4 separate regions of the Homo sapiens genome follow, and regions 1, 2 and 4 are each linked to region 3. Evidence: fine-mapped expression QTL. A gene starts in region 3. Each other region holds a variant in brackets. All regions are shown on one strand. Distances are from middle to middle.

What was found.
Region 1: its variant is fine-mapped to the expression of LYRM1 in whole blood (INTERVAL, PIP above 0.99).
Region 2: its variant is fine-mapped to the expression of LYRM1 in whole blood (TOPMed, PIP above 0.99).
Region 4: its variant is fine-mapped to the expression of LYRM1 in whole blood (TOPMed, PIP above 0.99).

Annotation. Positions count from the first base shown.
Region 1 is chr16:20,970,046-20,972,545 of GRCh38, reverse strand. The region is part of intron 51 of DNAH3 (dynein axonemal heavy chain 3); the gene reads left to right. Among named protein-coding and RNA genes, the nearest start is that of LYRM1, 71 kb to the right of the region's middle. RefSeq lists an enhancer at 325-1,524. The variant G/C (reference allele first, on the strand shown) is at 1,131.
Region 2 is chr16:20,922,574-20,925,320 of GRCh38, reverse strand. LYRM1 (LYR motif containing 1) reads right to left here. Exons shown (of 4, transcript NM_001128302.3): 4 at 315-1,321. The coding sequence ends at 1,205. Among named protein-coding and RNA genes, the nearest start is that of LYRM1, 23 kb to the right of the region's middle. The variant C/T (reference allele first, on the strand shown) is at 1,281.
Region 3 is chr16:20,899,679-20,902,425 of GRCh38, reverse strand. It overlaps LYRM1 (LYR motif containing 1), which reads right to left and starts at 1,655. Exons shown (of 4, transcript NM_001128302.3): 1 at 1,537-1,655. It overlaps DCUN1D3 (defective in cullin neddylation 1 domain containing 3), which reads left to right and starts at 2,068. Exons shown (of 3, transcript NM_173475.4): 1 at 2,068-2,222. RefSeq lists enhancers at 678-1,463, 1,464-2,249, 2,459-2,508.
Region 4 is chr16:20,842,033-20,844,779 of GRCh38, reverse strand. It overlaps REXO5 (RNA exonuclease 5), which reads right to left. Exons shown (of 20, transcript NM_030941.3): 16 at 754-846; 17 at 1-151. Among named protein-coding and RNA genes, the nearest start is that of REXO5, 37 kb to the right of the region's middle. The variant C/T (reference allele first, on the strand shown) is at 1,455.

The DNA.
Region 1 (2,500 bases), 70 kb before region 3:
TGATAATGGGCCAGCCATGATGGGTCATGCCTTTAATCCCAGTGCTTTGGGAGGCTGAGGCAGGAGGATGGCTTGAGGCAAGGAGGAATTTCAGACCAGCCCAGGTAACAATAGTGAAAACTCTTCTCTGCAAAAAACTAAAAAGAAAAAAATTGGTCAGGTGCAGTGGAGCACACCTGCGGTCTTAGCTACTCAGCAGCCTGAGACAGGAGGATCACTTCATTCCAGGAGCTGCAGTGAGCTATGATCCCACCACTGCACTCTAGCCTGGACAACGGAGTAAGATCTTATCTCAAAAAAAAAAAAAGAGAGAAAAAAAAATCAGGAGATTTCAAGTAACAATTCTGAATTTTCAGCTTTTCTTTGGAAAACATCGGGCAACCTGGCAACATCGGAGCTGCCCTCCCGGGTTGCACTCATCTTCGGTATTAAATAGATGCTGCCCCTGTGTGTTCCAATTCACCAAAGTCCCAGCCCCACCCACTCGCACTCACTGGCCTGGCCCCTGAGGCGCATGAATTGGCAACTCTTTAATGTTTCTGTGCTAGAATCAGGTACATCAGGGCTCAATTTTTGCTCTGTCCTTTCCTAGCTTCAGTTTCTTCATCTACAAAATGGGGGTACTAAGAGGAAAACATGTAACATTTGTAGCCTGTGCCAGAGCGTAAGGGTCTATGTTAGTGATTCTTCAAAACTGCTGTACTTTGCTCTATACCAAGGGGACTTGCCTATGTGACCAAGGCTAGCCCCTTTCCACATGTGGGTCGCAGAGGGAAGGAAAACAGCACAGCCAAGATTCTGCTCTGTAATGTCAGGCCAAACAGCGACTTGTTGGAGCAGGAGGGAGGTGAGTGATCGCACAAGGTTTGTAAGGCGGTGACCCAGGACGCCCCACTACACCCACTCCCAGGCAATAACTGCCACATCAGGTTTCGGTGCAAAGGGTGAGGCTCAAGTCTCTGCCATCCCATCCCTCTTCCAGGGAGTGACATCCTGGGATGAGTCAGGAAGTGGAAGAAACTACCCAGGGAGGAGGAGAAACCGGTGTCTGATTGTGCAGCTTTCCTGAGGCTTTTTTGTGGACCGGAATCCCTTCCTGGACCTTTCAGGGCTGTGGCCCTCCTGCCCAG[G/C]AGAAGTTGCTAATTTTCTCTAATCTCCTCACACTCCCAGAAATGACACAAGATGGAATAGTGCCCAGTAGGGTACCGAATGCACAGTAGGAATGCAAATGAAATCCATATTAGGAGTTTCTGTTTGATCCTAATTTGCCTTTAAGAAACATAAATTTTAGTGTTTCTTTATATGGAGACAAAGTTAGTTCCCTGCTCTTTACCAAAAAAGAAAAAAAAAAAGTGATTTGTTAGAAACTCAGAAGTACGGCTGAGCACAGAGGCTCATGCTTGTAATCCCAGCACTTTGGGAGGCCGAGGCGGGCGGATCACTTGAGGTCAGGAGTTCGAGACCAGCCTGGCCAACATGGTGAAACCCCATCTATACTAAAAATACAAAAATTAGTCAGACCTGGTGGTAGGCACCTGTAGTCCCAGCTACTCGGGAGCCTGAAGTGCGAGAATCACTTGAACCCGGGAAGCAGAGGTTGCAGTGAGCCGAGATAGCACCGCTGCTACAGTCCAGCCTGGATGATAGAGCGAGACTCTGTCTCAAAAAAAAAAAAAAAAAAAGAATAGAGAAAAGAAAAGAAATCCATACTGGGAAGACAAAGACTGGAAGAGCAAGAATCAGGTCACCAACTCTTGATTCACAAGCGCAATGGTTTGCTTACATTGGTCAATTCTTTCCAATTATTTCTTTCCCCCCTAATGAGGATGATCAATGATACCAAAATTACTGTGATCTGATTACATTTCGTCACACTGCACTGAACTCCATACCTCTCAAACAATCCGATTGCTCTTTTCATGCTAAGACTCAGGGGCAATTTTAAATTATGTTTTTAGCATAGAAACAAATGTGGTAACAATGCCTATGTGAGATTTTTGTTTTGTTTTTGTTTTTAGACAGAGTTTCAATTTCACTCTTGTCGGCCAGGCTGGAGTGCAATGGCAAAATCTCAGCTCACTGCAACCTCCGCCTCCCCAGTTCAGGCAATTCTTCTACCTCAGCCTCCTGAGTAGCTGAGATTACAAGCGCCCACCACCACGCCTGGCTAATTTTTGTATTTTTAGTAGAGACAGGGTTTTGCCATGTTGGCCAGACTGGTCTGGAACTCCTGACCTCAAGTGATCCACCACGTTGGCCTCCCAAAGTGCTGGGATTACAGGCATGAGCTACTGTGCCTGGCCAAAAAAGCAAATAAGTTGAATGCTCAGATGTTCGGGACATCCAGACCACAGCCCCAAAAGGCCATGCATGTGTTCCGGCTGCTGGTTAACGGTCAGAGCCATTGTCCAGCTCCAGCGGCAGGCACCATGTTAAAGGGTATCTGGAAGAGGAAGCACCTCTTCCTTCTTCCTCATGTAGGAGTGGAGCTCTGCTTCGC
Region 2 (2,747 bases), 23 kb before region 3:
TACTCGAGCGGCTGAGGCAGGAGAATTGCTTGAACCCAAGAGGCAGAGGTTGCGGTGAGCTGAGATTGCACCATTGCATTCCAGCCTGGGCAATGTGAGCAAAACTCCGTTTCAAAAAAAAAAATTTTATATATATACATATACTATTACTCCACTGATACAGCATCATATTTGTTCCCTACGTTATTGCCAAACCCTGTGATAAGTTACCTTGAGTGAGTGTGAAAACGTGTGCTCTTCCTCATAGGAGTAGGTTCCAGCTATTTCTTCTGAGGGTCAGGAGTCCATTTTGAAAAAGAATAGACAGACAAAAATTGATAGTGCTTTGTCTTTATTTCTGATGCCCATCTTCTTCAGAGGTTAAGAAGAAATGACACTGATGTACAAATGACTCACCAAGGGACTCTCACCTGACTCTACCCTTGCAGGGGTGGAATAAATCCCTTCTATTTTCAAGTCTATTTGTCCCATTTCTGTTTAGACATAATTTGAAAGCCAGCTTGGACCTTGTACTTTTCAATTATGTTAACGTAAAATACTCGTAACGAATGTAGTATGAGTTTAAAGTGAGCTTTTCAGATCCTATAAGTGCATCCTAAGTAATGACAGGCTTTAAGATAAGGAATATATGCATTTTGTTAAGGCAGAAATCTCATAAAATTTCATGAAAAACCATGGTCAATCCAATGATGCACTTTTTAAGACAAGTTTGTCTGGAAACTGGAAGGGTCAAAAGACAACAAAAAAGCACACACCAAAAAACCTCACTTTAAGCAAATCTATAACTTGAAAAAAAAAAAGCCTAAGAATATTCTGAGAGTGGTACATAGTTTTATAGTAGCCACAGTAACTTCCAGTGACTGGCAAATTTCTTTGCATCAGCTGGCATGTGTGGTGAATGGAATTCCCATGAACAGCTCTTACATCCTTCCGCTTTCCTTCTACAGGCCTCGGTCTTGTTTCCAAAGGTGACTGCAGTGAGGATGTAAGGTCCATGACCTCTAGGGATAATGCCATCCACTCAGGAAGAAAGATGCTGAGAAACTCTAGGGATATCTAAGTTTACATCACAGGGGGAGAATCAATTGTGGAGGTTTTAAGAAGACATTTGAATTTTTGCCCCTAATCAAGAAGTGTTTTGCCATCTGGTTTACATTCAATAACTAGTTGGCTCATCATTTGCAGAAATAAACTTTCCTCTAGATTAGGAAACTTCATCATGAGATCTGAGATATACTGGTTTGGAAAGTTTCCTCAGTTTCTCTTGGCTTCGAAGTCCC[C/T]GGCCTCGGAGTGGGGTAAGGCCCATTGGAGGCAGATGAATCTGAATAAGAACAATAATATGAAGAATCATATTCATCATCATTGCAGCAGCTCATATTCACTGAGGATCTACTCAGAAAGTACCATATTCTCTGCTAAGTGCTGTATCTACATTGATTCATTAATCTTTACACAAGTTAATCCTACAACAACCTCATAAGGGATTATTATTCTAATATTTACAGATGAGGAAATGAAACCTCAGAGAAGTTAAAAAACTTGCTTAAGGTTATACATTAAGAAGGGAAGCCAGGATTTGAACCCAGATCTGTCAGATTCCAGAGCCTGTGCTCTTTGCTATATCGCCTGCATAGAGGAGAAAAAACGAGCATGGATCACATAGCAAGTTGAGAATCCAAAGAAGGGGAGAAAAGTGTGTGTATATAAAGATGTTCTGTGCATAGTAGAAAACTGGGATCAAACTAACTGCCTAGCAAGAGAGGGGCTGGTTAAATTATGGCTGGGATGGTTAATTTTTCTTTCTTTCTTTTTTTTTTTTTTTGAGACACAGTTTCACTCTGTCACCCAGGCTGGAGTGCAGTGGCATGATCTCAGTTCACTGCAACCTCGGCCTCCCAGGTTCAAGTGATTCTCTGTCTCAGCCTCCCGAGTAGCTGGGATTATAGGTGCTCGCCACCACGCCCGGCTAATTTTTGTATTTTTAATAGATATGGGGTTTTGCCATGTTAGCCAGGCTGGTCTCGAATTCCTGACCTCAAGTGATCCACCTGCCTTGGCCTCCCATAGTGCTGGGATTACAGGCATGAGCCACCGTGCCTGGCCTAGGATGCTTAATTTTTGTGTCAATCTGATTGGCAATGGGTGCCCAGATTAAACATCATTTCTAGGTGTATCTGTGAGGGTGTTTCTGGATGAGATTAGCATTTGAATCAGTGGACTTAGTAAAGCACATGGCCCTCCCCAGTGTGAATGGGCATCATCCAATCCATGGAGGGCCTGAATAGAACAAACAGGCAGAAGAAGGGGAAGCGGCTCCTTTTGCTTCCTGCCTGTTTGAGCTGGGACACCTCATCTTCTCTGGGCCTCAGACTGGGGATTTCTACCATTGGCCCCTTGGGTTCTCAGGCCTGTGGACTCAAACTGAGTAATACCACCAGCTTTCTTCTGGGTCTCCAGCTTGCAGACGGCAAATCCTAGGACTTCTCAGCCTCTATAATCACATGCACCAATTCCTTATAATAAATCTCCTTTCAGCCGGGCACAGTGGCTCACGCCTGTAATCCCAGCACTTTGGGAAGCTGAGGTGGGCGGATCACCAAGTCAGGAGTTTGAGACCAGCCTGGCCAACATAGTGAAACCCTATATCTACTAAAAGTACAAAAAATTAGCTGGCATGGTGGCGGGGGCCTGTAATCCCAGCTACTTGGGAGGGTGAGGCAGGAGAATCGCTTGAACCCAGGAGGTGG
Region 3 (2,747 bases):
AGGTGATCTGGGAGCTCCTCCCTGCCTTCCTTATTTATTATCTCCAACTATGATTTTTCCCCGACTTGTATATCTAACTTCTTGACAACTTCATTTGACTTGTTAATAGACTTATCAAACTTAATATGTTCAAAAGAGAACTTTCGATATTCCTTTCTAAACTGTTTTCCCGTAGGGAGTTAACCTTGGTTCCTCCCTCTCCTACACACTTCACATCCAATTCCCCAGCAAGTCCTGCAAGCACTACCTCCCAAATATATGCTGAATGGAATTCTCTCCATTTCCACTGTGACTGAGGGCCTTTTCTTTTTTCTTAAGACGGAGTCTCACTCCGTTGCCCAGGCTGGAGTGAAGTGGCGCGATCTTGGCTCACTGCAACCTCCACCTCCCGGGTTCAAGCGATTCTCCTGAGTAGCAGAGATTACAGGCGCGTGCCACTACGCCCAGCTGATTTTTGTATTTTTAGTAGAGATGGGGTTTCACCATGTTGGCCAGGATGATCTCGATCTCCTGACCTCGTGATCCGCCCGCCTAGGCCTCCCAAAGTACTGGGTTTATAGGCGTGAGCCACCGCGCCCGGCCGGCCCTTTCAACACTATCTTCACCTCTCCTTTGTCTTACAGTGCAACAGTCTCCTAACAGGTCTAACTACTTCCACCCTTCTCTATCCAGCAGGCAGAGCGGATTTTTAAAAATGTAAATCAGGTCAGGTCACTTCCCTTCTTAAAACCCTTAAGGTACACATTAGCCAAACCCCTGCCTTGGGCTAAAAGGCGCTGCTACAGTCATGCCACTTCCCCAACTACATCACAGGGCACTCCGGCCCTGGCTCTGTTTGCTTCAGCCACATGGCCTTCTGGCTGTTTCCAACCTAAAAGTCCTTCTCATTGGCTCTTCTCTCCACCCAGAAAACCCATTGTCTCGGATCCCCGCAAAACCGTGGCCTCCTTTGAACGACCTTACCCGATTTCGAGGGGCCCTCCCCCCATCTTCTGTCACCTCATCCGGTCTTTGGGGGGCATTTCTCACTTGCTGATACCTTCTTTATTGATTTACTTAACTCTCTCCTGCACACGAATGGAAGGTAACGGAGCAACACCCTACTCTCAGGTTTGAAGAGCAAGAGAATTACGAAGCTGGCTCTCACGGTCCTAGGGAGTCTCCGTTCCTGTACGGGACCTGGTGTGGGTCAACGTTCCCCAGCCAGACACCTCTCGCCCCCGGACCGGCCCCTACCATCTCCCATTTACATTCGGGGGTCCAAAAGATTCACAGCCTCCGAGGGGGCCCCACGCCGGCACCTGAGCGTCCCCACACCAGGCCTCCCCTCTTGGACGCGCGAGCCACTTCCGTGAGGCAGGTCCCCGAGGCCGGTGGCGATGACACCGAGCCGCCCCCGCGAAGCTGGGGTCACACAGGCCCGTCTCCCGGCAACGCCGCAGCCCAACCTCCAAACCATCCCTGCCCGTGGGGAGCCAACCCCTTCCCCGCCAGTCTCCCGCGCCTGGAGTCGGCGCCTCCATCCCCTACACTCACTCTGCGTCAGTCCTGCCTTCCCCCACCCACAGAAGCGCGCAGCCCGCGGCGGGCTGGGAGGAGGCGGCGCCAGGAGCCCAGCAGAGCCGTGGCCGACCGAGCACAGGCTGGTCCAGTAGGCCAGGCCGGACCAAACCACCGGGCCCACCTCTGTGGGAGCACCAGTTCCAGGTCTGGGGGAGTCTCGACTGACTGACTCTACCCATCTCCCGCCGCATCCAACAATAAGCTGAGCTCCTCCTCCCCCTATTTTTCCTTTACGCTTTCATTATCCTCCCCGCTCCATTCCCGTAAAACAAGAAAAAAAAATGGTCCAGCCCAGCTCCCTCCGGGTTGCTAGGTCTTTGCCCTTACTTGGCGACGGCTTCGTACGTCTTTATGTGCGTCGTGACGCAATCTTCCACTCGTTCCCTCCTTGCCCCTCTCCCATTCTCCCTCCTGGAGCTGGCGGCCGGCGGGGTTACCGGAAGTGATGATGCAGGAGGCGATGGAGGGGGCGGGGCTTCGGGGCGGCCGCCGCCGGTGGGCCGCAGATGAAGAGGAGGCGGTGGCAGTGGTGGAAGAAGAGGCGGCGGCGGCGGGGGTAGGGAGCCTGGAAACGCGAGCGGGGATGGTAGGTGGTTTGGACCCGCCGGGCCGCCGTCGTTTCCAGAAAGGGTTTGACTGGAGGAACCTCTGGAGCAGCTGTGAGTTTTGGGGAGGGGGGGAGTTGAGGAAAAGGCGGGGGGGCATTGAGAGATGAAGGGGCGGGGGTTGGGTACCTTCGAGAAAGGGGGGTGGAAAGGGAGGAGTGGAAGTCAGCGCGTTGTCTGGAGTGGTACCTCTGAAAGAAGAGGCTGTGAGGGGAGCCTGTGGCGTGTCAGCCGCAGGGCTCAGAAAACTTACCTACTGTCCCTGCCTCCCCACCGCCAGCACCCCTCAACCCAGGGCCTGGGGATATGGGGTTGGAGCTGCCCTGGAGGGGGTGCAGACTCTGGTCCTCTGTCCTGGGTGAGCGCTGTGAGGTAGGAGCCCTAGGGGGAGGTGGTGGGTGAATCTCCCAGCTCCCTCCGCCCTCATTTCCCTCCCCACCCCCATCGTTCTCTTTAATCATTAACAGCCCTGGAATTAAGGGGCTCAGACCTGAAGGCCTTTTTGTGCACCTTTGCTATAAACGATAACCATCTGTGTCCGAGGTAATGAGGCTGGAGGCTTTGCCTGTATCCTCTATA
Region 4 (2,747 bases), 58 kb after region 3:
CAAGAAAGAGGCGGGGCTCCTGCAATAGCTGTTCTTTGAAGGTTTCACTCACTCCAGACAGATATATAGAGCCTTGGTTTTCAGAATCTCCTTCCAGCTCATTCACGAGGGTGTCACAATCAAGCGTGAGCTCTGTCACAGGCCTCTGCACCTAACCAAGGAAAGTTGGTGTTAGTGGTAGAAAATCAATTTAATCCTCAGGCCTATTGGATACTAGCAAGTTGTTGCCATTACTAATAACTTCATTTTTCAGTTTCCTAAAATTTTCCGTTTCTTTTCTTTTCTGTAAAAGGAAACTAAAGATAATGGCCTCACAGAATTATGTTAGAGACTTAATTGATAAATACATATTTTCATGTAAACATATTCTCTTCAGTTTCCTGCCTCCCACCCTTAATGAAATTCTGTTTATGTGCACAAGAAACTTCAAAATACCACCATTTGATCTCCCTGAAAGGTGAAGAAAAGGGTAACCACAAAGAACCAACCAGAATAAACCACAGGGGACTTAAGTAGTAACAAAGAATGCAAGGAAGACCCAAATCTAGCCCAGGATGATTTCTGACACAAATGAAAGCCGTTATGTCTTCAATCACTGCCAGTAGGAGAATGTTAGACTTGGCTGAAGACTTTCCATAACAAAGTCTTGTGCGTGGGCCTCTTGAGAGTGTTTCCTATATGTCCTGGGGCACTATAAATACAGGCTGTGGTAGGCCAGACCCAAGCAAAGGGGGCTTTCTCTTGTCACCCTACCTTGATGCAGATACCATCTACCAGAATACCATCCAAGGATTCTATGGCCAGCTGGGCAGCTTCTAGGACTTCATACTGTATACAGAGATGAGGCTGCAGAAAGACCAAGATTTCCTCATCATTGCTTTCCAGCTCAAACTGCTAAAGAAGGGGTTGGGGAAAGGATTCAAACTACAGTGGCCAAAGCCACCAGAATGGATGCCTTTACTGTGCTGGGCTACACAAGTATTGATTGTAAACTGTCAACTTTAAATGGGATCATCAAAGTTCAGAAACTAGCTTTCAGACAACAAATAACTTTGTCATTTAAAATGGAACTACCCAACAGGCTTTTCATAATATTTATTATGCATCACTAAAGTCATCACTGCAAGTCACGGGCAGAGATTCCCATTTGTCTTTTGGCTTAACTTTATAAGCTTGGGAAGGATAAGTTCTTCCACTGGATAGGCTACATCTTCAAATGGTCTGCTTTTCTGTTTGTTAACTCGGAGTAACTAAATCTTTGTGATTATCTGAGCCATAGCATCAATATGGAGATAAAAGCCTTCCCATAGAAAAGTTTCATGACACTGGATTTGGCAATGGTTTCTTGAATATGACATCAAAGGCAGGCAACAAAATTAAAAATAGACAAATTAGACTTCATAAAAATTAAAACCTTTTGTATATCAAAGGACACTAACAGCAGTGTCAAAAAG[C/T]AACCCACAGAATGGAGAAATAGTTGCAATCACATAGCTAATAAAAGATTAATATCCAGAATGTACAGAGAAATCCTACAATTCAACAATAAAAAAGCCAAACAACCTGATTTAAAAATGGGCAAACACTGCAGAGTAGCTGGAACTGAAAAAAATAAATAAGAAAAAAAGGGCAAACAAGTGAATAGACTTTGCTGTAAAAGATGTACAAATTGCCTGCGACACTCAACATCACTAATCATTAGGGAAACGCAAATCAAACCCAAATGAGATACCATTTCACATCCATTAGGATGGCTACTATTAAATAAAATAGAAAACAAGTGTCAGTGAAGATGTAGATAAGTTGGAACCTTTGTTCTTTGCTGGTAGGAATGTAAAATGGTATAGCCACTGTGGAAAACAGTATAATGGTTCCTCAAAAAATTAAACATAGAATTACTATTTGATCCATCAATTCCACTTCTGGGTATACACCCAGAAGAACTGAAAGCAGGGACTTGAACAGATATGTGTACAACCATGTTCATAGCAGCATTATTCATGATAGTCAAAGGTAGAAACAACCCAGGGTCAGGCACAGTGGCTCACGCCTGTAATCCAAGAACTTTGGGAGGCCAAGGTGGGTGGATCTCTTGAGTCCAGGAGTTCAAGATCAGCCTGGGCAACATAGAGAGACCCTGTCTTACAAAAAATTAGCCAGGCGTGCATGCCTGTGGTCCCAGCAGGAGGCTGAGGTGGGAGGATTGCTCGAGCCCAGGAGGTTGAGGCTGTAGTTAGTTGTGATCACGCCACTGAACTCCAGCCTGGGTGAGCAAGACCCTATCTCAAAAAAAAAAAAAACAAACAAAACAAAGGGTAGAAACAAGAAACAACCCAAATGTCCATCAACAAATGGATAAACAAAATGTGGTATATACATGAAATGGAATATTATTTTGCCTTGAAAATGAAATTCTAATACATGCTACAACATGAATGAACCTTGAAGACATGCTAAATGAAATAAACCAGACACAAAAGGACAAATATTGTATGATTCCACTTATGTGAGGTACGTACACAGAGTAGTCAAATTCATAAAGACAGAAAGTAAAACAATGATTACCAGGGGCTGGGGGGAGGGGTAATAGGAAATTATTGCTTAATAGGAAATTTCAGTTCGGGATGATGAAAAAGTTCTAGAGATGGATGGTGATGATAGCTGCACAATATCAACATACTGAATGCCACTTAAAAATGGTTAAAAAGGTACATTTTATTTTATATGTATTTTACCCGCCACCCCCGCAA